Regions from separate parts of the Homo sapiens genome. Here region 2 is reported to be linked to region 1. Evidence: microRNA targets listed by miRTarBase, many of them from high-throughput screens and not tested one by one. Region 1 holds a microRNA gene; the other region holds the end of a gene's coding sequence.

What was found. Region 1 holds the annotated microRNA hsa-miR-6510-5p (CAGCAGGGGAGAGAGAGGAGUC, at 1,855-1,876, shown strand). A microRNA usually pairs through its seed, bases 2 to 8, with sites in the 3' UTR of a target mRNA and lowers its output. Matches are read on the target gene's strand: a 7mer-m8 pairs with bases 2 to 8, a 7mer-A1 pairs with bases 2 to 7 and ends in A, and an 8mer does both.
Region 2: miRTarBase lists SH3RF1 as a target of hsa-miR-6510-5p. Seed matches in the 3' UTR shown: 8mer at 2,790-2,797.

The regions. Positions count from the first base shown.
Region 1 is chr17:41,515,003-41,519,069 of GRCh38, reverse strand. MIR6510 (microRNA 6510) reads left to right here and starts at 1,853; the gene lies at 1,853-1,906. KRT15 (keratin 15) reads left to right here and starts at 180. Exons shown (of 8, transcript NM_002275.4): 1 at 180-740; 2 at 1,905-1,987; 3 at 2,106-2,262; 4 at 2,805-2,966; 5 at 3,060-3,185; 6 at 3,378-3,598. The coding sequence starts at 243. RefSeq lists an enhancer at 1,545-2,429.
Region 2 is chr4:169,093,240-169,097,304 of GRCh38, forward strand. SH3RF1 (SH3 domain containing ring finger 1) reads right to left here. Exons shown (of 12, transcript NM_020870.4): 12 at 1,020-3,448. The coding sequence ends at 3,280. Among named protein-coding and RNA genes, the nearest start is that of CBR4-DT, 85 kb to the left of the region's middle.

The DNA.
Region 1 (4,067 bases):
ATCTCTTTTGTTGCATTAAAAAAAAATAGAAGAGAAAAACTTCACATGACCCACTCAAGGTGTGCAGGCAGCTGTGTTTGTCAGGAAGGCAGAAGGAGTTGGCTTTGCTTTAGGGGAGGAGACGAGGTCCCACAACACCCTCTGAAGGGTATATAAGGAGCCCCAGCGTGCAGCCTGGCCTGGTACCTCCTGCCAGCATCTCTTGGGTTTGCTGAGAACTCACGGGCTCCAGCTACCTGGCCATGACCACCACATTTCTGCAAACTTCTTCCTCCACCTTTGGGGGTGGCTCAACCCGAGGGGGTTCCCTCCTGGCTGGGGGAGGTGGCTTTGGTGGGGGGAGTCTCTCTGGGGGAGGTGGAAGCCGAAGTATCTCAGCTTCTTCTGCTAGGTTTGTCTCTTCAGGGTCAGGAGGAGGATATGGGGGTGGCATGAGGGTCTGTGGCTTTGGTGGAGGGGCTGGTAGTGTTTTCGGTGGAGGCTTTGGAGGGGGCGTTGGTGGGGGTTTTGGTGGTGGCTTTGGTGGTGGCGATGGTGGTCTCCTCTCTGGCAATGAGAAAATTACCATGCAGAACCTCAATGACCGCCTGGCCTCCTACCTGGACAAGGTACGTGCCCTGGAGGAGGCCAATGCTGACCTGGAGGTGAAGATCCATGACTGGTACCAGAAGCAGACCCCAACCAGCCCAGAATGCGACTACAGCCAATACTTCAAGACCATTGAAGAGCTCCGGGACAAGGTGAGTCCTCGGATGTCAAAGAGAGGGGAGCAGGTGGCTGGTACCCTGTACACAGCTCTAATGTCAGTGTTACTGCTGACTCAAGGAAATCCTTTCCTGCCCAGGCAATGACTGTCTGGTATGTAATCTCAGCAAATTTGGAATGCACCTGCTGTCCAGGTGCAGAGGCCAGTGCACATCTTCTCAACTTGGTGGTGCTGGGGGAGGGAGAGAGGGGTCTTGGGAATCTGGTTAGGACCAACAGGGGCACAGGTGGGGGCAATTATAAAGAGCCAGAGGCAGTAGCTCACACCTGTAATCCCAGTGCTTTGGGGGGCCAAGGTGATAGGATTGCTCGTGTCCAGGATTTAGAGGCTGCAGTGAGCTATGACTGTGCCACTGCACTCCGGCCTAGGTGACAGAGTGGAACCTGTATCTAATTAAATAAAAATAATTAAAAAAAAAGAGCAACTCGCCCTCCCTACCTCATGCACCCTGCAGGCTTCTGCATAAAGTATTCCTTTACCTCTTTTGCAAGAATGGGATTGGAGTGTGGCCTCATGAGTTCCAGATGCTAGAACCTCTTGTCTTTTCCTATAAAGAGGTCTTTTGTGCCAAAAGTACTGTTGGGTCTTAGGAGACCTGGGAACTCATTACACATTCTGCCACCCACTCACTCACCATTTTACTCCCTAAGACTGGGTTCCTCATTCGTAAAATGCCTTCTTAACTGCCCTCCAGGTTGCTACTGGCTGGAATGTTCTGTAGATCCATGGCTGTGTCCAAGGTGTGCAGGAGGCAGTGACCATGAGTTGTCCACAGTGGGGCTGGTGGAGTGTCTCTGAGAGAGCTATTGTCAGAGCTGGCTGCACCCCACTGCCCCACTCTCCTGGGCAACCAATTCCCACAGGCAATACTGCCTCCTTGGTCTTTCGTGCCCTGGAGATAAGGAAGGCAGCTCCTCAGGTGTCTCAAGGAGGCTGGATGGGACAAAACAAGAAATGGACACTGAAAGTGAGGCTGGACTTTGCCCACCCCAGAAGCCGTACAGATTTTTGTTGGTGGTGTCAGAGGGGTGATTGTCAGTGAGGGGTGATTTTCAATGAGGGGCTGGCCTTGGGTGCAGAGCAGAGAGCAGCAGGGGAGAGAGAGGAGTCCTCTAGACACCGACTCTGTCTCCTGCAGATCATGGCCACCACCATCGACAACTCCCGGGTCATCCTGGAGATCGACAATGCCAGGCTGGCTGCGGACGACTTCAGGCTCAAGTGCGCTCCCCCGTCTCTCTCCTCTTCCTGCATTGCCCACTTTACTTGGCCTTCTCCTGGCTCTGACTCAGGCAGCCAAGACCCCTCCCACTTCCTTCTTTGGCCTCCCTCTCCTCAGGTATGAGAATGAGCTGGCCCTGCGCCAGGGCGTTGAGGCTGACATCAACGGCTTGCGCCGAGTCCTGGATGAGCTGACCCTGGCCAGGACTGACCTGGAGATGCAGATCGAGGGCCTGAATGAGGAGCTAGCCTACCTGAAGAAGAACCACGAAGAGGTGAGAGCTGGCCCCCATCACCCCTGAACCCGAGAGAGGTGGGGAACCTCTTCCCAAAACTCACTTAAATTGCCCAGAGGGAAAGACAGTGGCTCCAGGAAGCCCTCCCAGATTTTCACGAGATTAAGTCAGTGGGAGGCAGAGTGGGGCTGTTGGTACTTCCTCATAGTTGGCCTGGGGCTTAGTGGTTCAGAAACACACCTACCCCACAAAACCAGGTGTCCTCATGGAGAGGAAGGGGCAGTGTCTGGTAGCCCAGGCCCACAGCCAGCCCAGGTGGCCCGTATGAATGGTTGACTTCCTGATTGGCTTTGTGAGCTCACATCAGGGCCCTACAGTCTCGGGGTCCTCCCTTGGTAGGACCTAGAGCAGCAGAGAACTCCTTAGAGCTGAGGGGTCCATGTGACCAAACCTCTTCATGTGCAATGGGGAACAGCGGTTGGGGTGTGTTACGGGCAGAGCCAGGATTGGCATGTGTGACGCCAGACTCTCAGGTCTCTCTTCTGCTCTCCGTCTCTAAGTGGGTCCCTCCCATCCTGCAGGAGATGAAGGAGTTCAGCAGCCAGCTGGCCGGCCAGGTCAATGTGGAGATGGACGCAGCACCGGGTGTGGACCTGACCCGTGTGCTGGCAGAGATGAGGGAGCAGTACGAGGCCATGGCGGAGAAGAACCGCCGGGATGTCGAGGCCTGGTTCTTCAGCAAGGTGGGCCTTATATCCTGCCCTGCCCTTCCTGCCCCAGGTCCCTGAGTCTCCGAGGAGGCCCCGGGGCTCACTTCTGTTGTGCATGACCTACAGACTGAGGAGCTGAACAAAGAGGTGGCCTCCAACACAGAAATGATCCAGACCAGCAAGACGGAGATCACAGACCTGAGACGCACGATGCAGGAGCTGGAGATCGAGCTGCAGTCCCAGCTCAGCATGGTACGGCCACTCGCGCCCCATCCCAGCCTCTCGGGTGGTAGAAGCTCCCACTCTTCCTGGCTATTTAAGCCTTGGAGTTCTCAAGCCCCCTCAAGAGGTGGTTCCCTGAACTCCATTCAGTGCCCCCTCCCTGCTTGCCCTCAGTGGCTTCCTTTCTAGCCTGATGTGTCTATGCATCTGTCACTCCCCCAGAAAGCTGGGCTGGAGAACTCACTGGCCGAGACAGAGTGCCGCTATGCCACGCAGCTGCAGCAGATCCAGGGGCTCATTGGTGGCCTGGAGGCCCAGCTGAGTGAGCTCCGATGCGAGATGGAGGCTCAGAACCAGGAGTACAAGATGCTGCTTGACATAAAGACACGGCTGGAGCAGGAGATCGCTACTTACCGCAGCCTGCTCGAGGGCCAGGATGCCAAGTAGGCGCCTGGGCACAGGGGAAGGAGTGATGAGGGCTGCTTGTGGCTAGGGTGCAGGGTCATCCTAAGGGAATGGCAGGGTGTCCCTAAGCAGCCTTGAGGGACTGTGAAAAGAGAACTGAGCAAGGAGGGAGGATCTGGACTCCTCACTCTGGTCCTTGGCTGTTACCTGGGACAGGTCACTTCCTCTCTCTGGATCCGTGTTTCTTCTGTAAATGATAGAGGCTGGGCTAGTGGTAGTTAAGATCTAGTGCTCATTCCATTCTCTGCATGAGATAGATGGGTATTCTTGTAGTTCAGAATCTTGACCAGCTCAGTGGCTCATGCCTGTAATCCCAGCACTTTGGGAGTCCAAGGCGGGTGGATCACTTGAGGTCAGGAGTTCGAGACCAGCATGGCCAATATGGTGAAACCCCGTCTCTACTAAAAATACAAAAATTAGCTGGGCGTGGTGGCGGGTGCCTGTAAT
Region 2 (4,065 bases), not on the chromosome of region 1:
CACATTTTTAAAAATTTGATGAATACACACAAAGAGTTGTTAGTCAAACATCTATTAAACTTAGTCAAACATCTATTAAACTTAGTCAAACATCTATTAAACACAATTTCCAAAGCCGAATTCTAATGTTGTTTATAGCTCTGGATTGAAATATTCAGAGAATTGAATGTTCTTCTGGAGGTATGCAAATATGTTCTATTATAGGAACAGAAAGTTAAATGCATAGCAGTTGGAAACATCACCTTAATTTGTTCCTTCTAAAACCAATCAGACCCTGAAAAGCATTATATCATATACTCCAAGAGAGTGAGATGAATATTTGAAACCAGAGATAAACTTAATGCCACACATTAAAATAGCACTTTTCAAAAACAGTGAGATTATCTCCTTTGCTCCTCATCCTCACCCAGTGGGGTAGATGGGACACCAAAAGGAGGAAACTAAGTAATAATCAACTTGCCCAGGTGGCTACAGAGATAGTTTTTGGAAAAGCTACAATACAACCTAGAATTCCTGATTTTCAATTCTGATAAGTCATTTGACAGTAGCCAAAAGTTAATAAGAAAATAGTTTTTAACATGACTTACATGGGCCTTTCATTTCATGGGAAATTAAAACCATGGTGAATCTAAAGATTTTGTCCCCAAGCCATGCTGAGACTTACGGGTTATCATACTATTGGTTGATAGGTCTGCTTTTCCTTCTATGGCTAAGACAACTAGCACTCACCAGATTATTTTAGTAACTGGAAGAGGAAGAGGGGAACACAAGTGCCATACATGACCTCGTGCGACTCCACAAACTCTTTTTAAGCTTCTTGGAGAAATAAACAAGGTTTGTTAGTTGCAGAGGTAAAATGTGTCATAATCACCAAATTGATTCCTGTAGACATCTTCCGCTTGAGATGTATGCAAAGAATTTTTGTGAGGTACAAATTAGGTCAAATGTGTCCCGTGTTTTTTGTTTTGTTTTGTTTTTTTAAAAAGCAAAATTTTAAGGACTGACACAAGGGACATACAAAGGTTTGAACATCAAATTTTAATCTTGAAACCTTTTATCCAGTCCTCAAATTATTAACATGAAAAGGAGTGATAAATCGCAATTTTATCATTACCATATCACTGTGTAACAAGCCCTTGTTACAAAATCTCCCTCTACTGTCTGCAAAAAACCAATAGAAAACCCATACATTATATTACCTAATGATCTATTAACAGATGAAATTTTAACCAACTTTATACCAGGAAACTATGAACAGAGGTACTTCAATCACATAGCTTAAAATATGGAGAAAAGACAGGTAAAAAAATTATCTTAACCTGTAGTAGTCTTTTTTCTTTTTAAAATTTTTATAAAATACACTAATTTCCCAAAATAAAGAATATTATGACACATTGGTGTCAACTTACACAGATGAAAGCTGATGCCAGCTTTTTCCTAACTAAAGTTCATTTCACCAAACCTTTATATATTACATGAATATCCAAGTAAAGTATTTTTTTTTTAAATTCAACACACAGGAACATAATATACATTGTTTTTTTTTAAAAAAAAGGTTAATTTAGGAATGATTTCATCTTCAACCACATAAAGTATCTTTTTAAGACCATGAAACCTCTTGTCATTGCAAGACTTTTCAGTTCATGTTTCTATTTCCCAGTTTTAATTCTTAAAGGAAAAAAAAAAAGATGAAAGGGTTTATTATGTATTTCCCATGAGAAAACTGTGGTAAGGATCTTATTCATTACCAGGCTGTCTTCCCTCCTTTTGTTTTCCGGACTACCCAGATCCATGACTGCGTGGCACCGTAATGAAATCGGTGGGAGAGGCCAATGACATCAAGGAATGGATATAAAAAGACAGGCTCTTCTGGATCCTGCCACAATTGTAAGGTGTGGGCAAATTCACTCCCACCAAGCCTTCCAGAGCTCCACAGTCACAGGAGTAGTCTCCTGGTTAACTCATCCTTGATGTCTGTCTGCTGGGAGGACATAAAAGACCACTTTCACTAATGACTTGTGTAGTGGCTAATGCATGCCTTAGCCAGAGAGGGAGCGAGTGCACTGAAGAGACCTTGGTCAGTAGTGGCTTTGGGGTAGAGAAGAGAACACTGTTTATTTTTACACCTCCTGAATTGGTCAATTCTGAGTACAAACTCATCTTAACAGGAAATCGCAATGAAATATACACACCATGCACAGTCTATATTACTGTGGGAATCCAGTAATACATGCAAGACGTGGGGAAAGAATCACAATGGATGAATATGAACTTTTCACAGTGTTTCTTATAGCCTTTGACTTAACACGAGTGCATCACTTACCACCACTATCTCACAAATGTTTTACTTGTGTCCTGGGCATGCAGGTCAGTTGGGGTAAAATGTGAAATGACGCTTCATAGCCATTCTCAGACAGTGACTACAACTTCAATTTCCCCTACTTTCCAACCAAACAATTGAGCTGCTTCTGCTATAAAACTAAATATATTTCTAAATACATTTTGTTCAAGGGTTGTGCTGTATTCTTTCTCATTGTTTCAGTCACTTCATTCTAGGAAAATTAAAAACCCACACAATTAAATTGAGGACTAGGTCTTCAGGGTGATTCCTACCAAACTAGAAAGAGAGGGAATCACTAACTTCTCTTCTCTCAAGTTTCTGTCTCTCTACCCCAGGCCCTAATTGATACTGATTCATTTGTATGTTTGGTTTCCCAAAGAAGAAAACCAAATTAGAGAACTGGGATTTCTATCTTAAAGAAGCAAAACATAACCCCAAAATATAATGGTAGCAGGGAGGAGGAGAGGGGAAAATGCATTCACTCTATGTCAAAACGAATCTCTTGCTCTCAACAGGAGATAATCCAGCTTCTCCTTACCTATCATTTCATAAATTAATAATTTCTTAAAATCATAATCCAAAGAACGTATCTATTATACGAAAAGTTCAAGTTTAAAAAAGCAAATAAATTAGTTAAGCCTTGTAAACAATTGTCCATTTTAGTCATATATCTTAAAAAAAAAAAAAAGTTTCTCTGTGTAGTAAATCAGACAGTACAAGGCACACCTTATACATCCGAATCCAGACTAACAAAACCCACACAAACATCTTCTTCATTCTGCTCGCTGGGGTAACTGTGCTGGGGCATCAGAGTCACATACCAATCCTTTGCTCATCTCCTGACCATCTGGAAGTCCACAAATGTGCTCTTTCTGTTAAACTGCTTTGTGCTACTTTGTTGTGTGAAGTGATTTTAAGCTTCTTCAGTGTCAGTCTCCTCATATGTTTTCCACAAAGCTTCCTGGGAAAAGGCCAGTTTTCCCATTACGTTGTAATGTGCCTTTGAACCAGCCATCCTCTCGTTTTTTATGAACAAACACAATATCTCCTTCTTTAAGTTCAAGTTCTGCCTCACTCTGAGGAGGATAGGAAACCACCACCCTGTGCCTAGAAAAGAAAGAGATTTTGGTTAAGGCGATTCAAAGCAGTGATTTTAAAAAATGGTGTACTGTTAGTCTGCACGAACCTTCAACATAAATAGGAAATAACATTAATTCATTTATGATTGTAAAACAACTCAAAATACTGCTATTTTCTGTTTAGTAGAGACTTAGTACTAACAAAGACTGGATTTGGATATGTGTGTCAACCCACTACTGATGGCCCAGACTGGTTCATCTGAGTGACCTTAACAAGGACAGCCATCCTTGTTCCCTACCAGTGTTTGTATCTTGGCCATAAAGGAGAGTTTCATTTCATTTCCCGAGAGGGGTATCATTTCTATCCCTCCCTCTTCTCCAAGGAAACAGGAGTGAATTTATTTGATTGGTGAGACTGGGAGAAGTAGCTGAGCAGGGGGGGTTCAGTCCTCTCTGAACCGCCTGCCCACAGGCTAAGGAGGCTCTGCTCCACCTCTATGTTGTAAGCACACAGAGGTCAGGAAGGTGAGTCTGGAAGTCTGTCTCTGTGTCCCTACGTCCCTTACACTGGTGTTTGACATGGGCGAGGCAGCAATTCTGAGGAAGGTAATCTGCCCCACATACCCAGATTATCCCTTGGGAAGG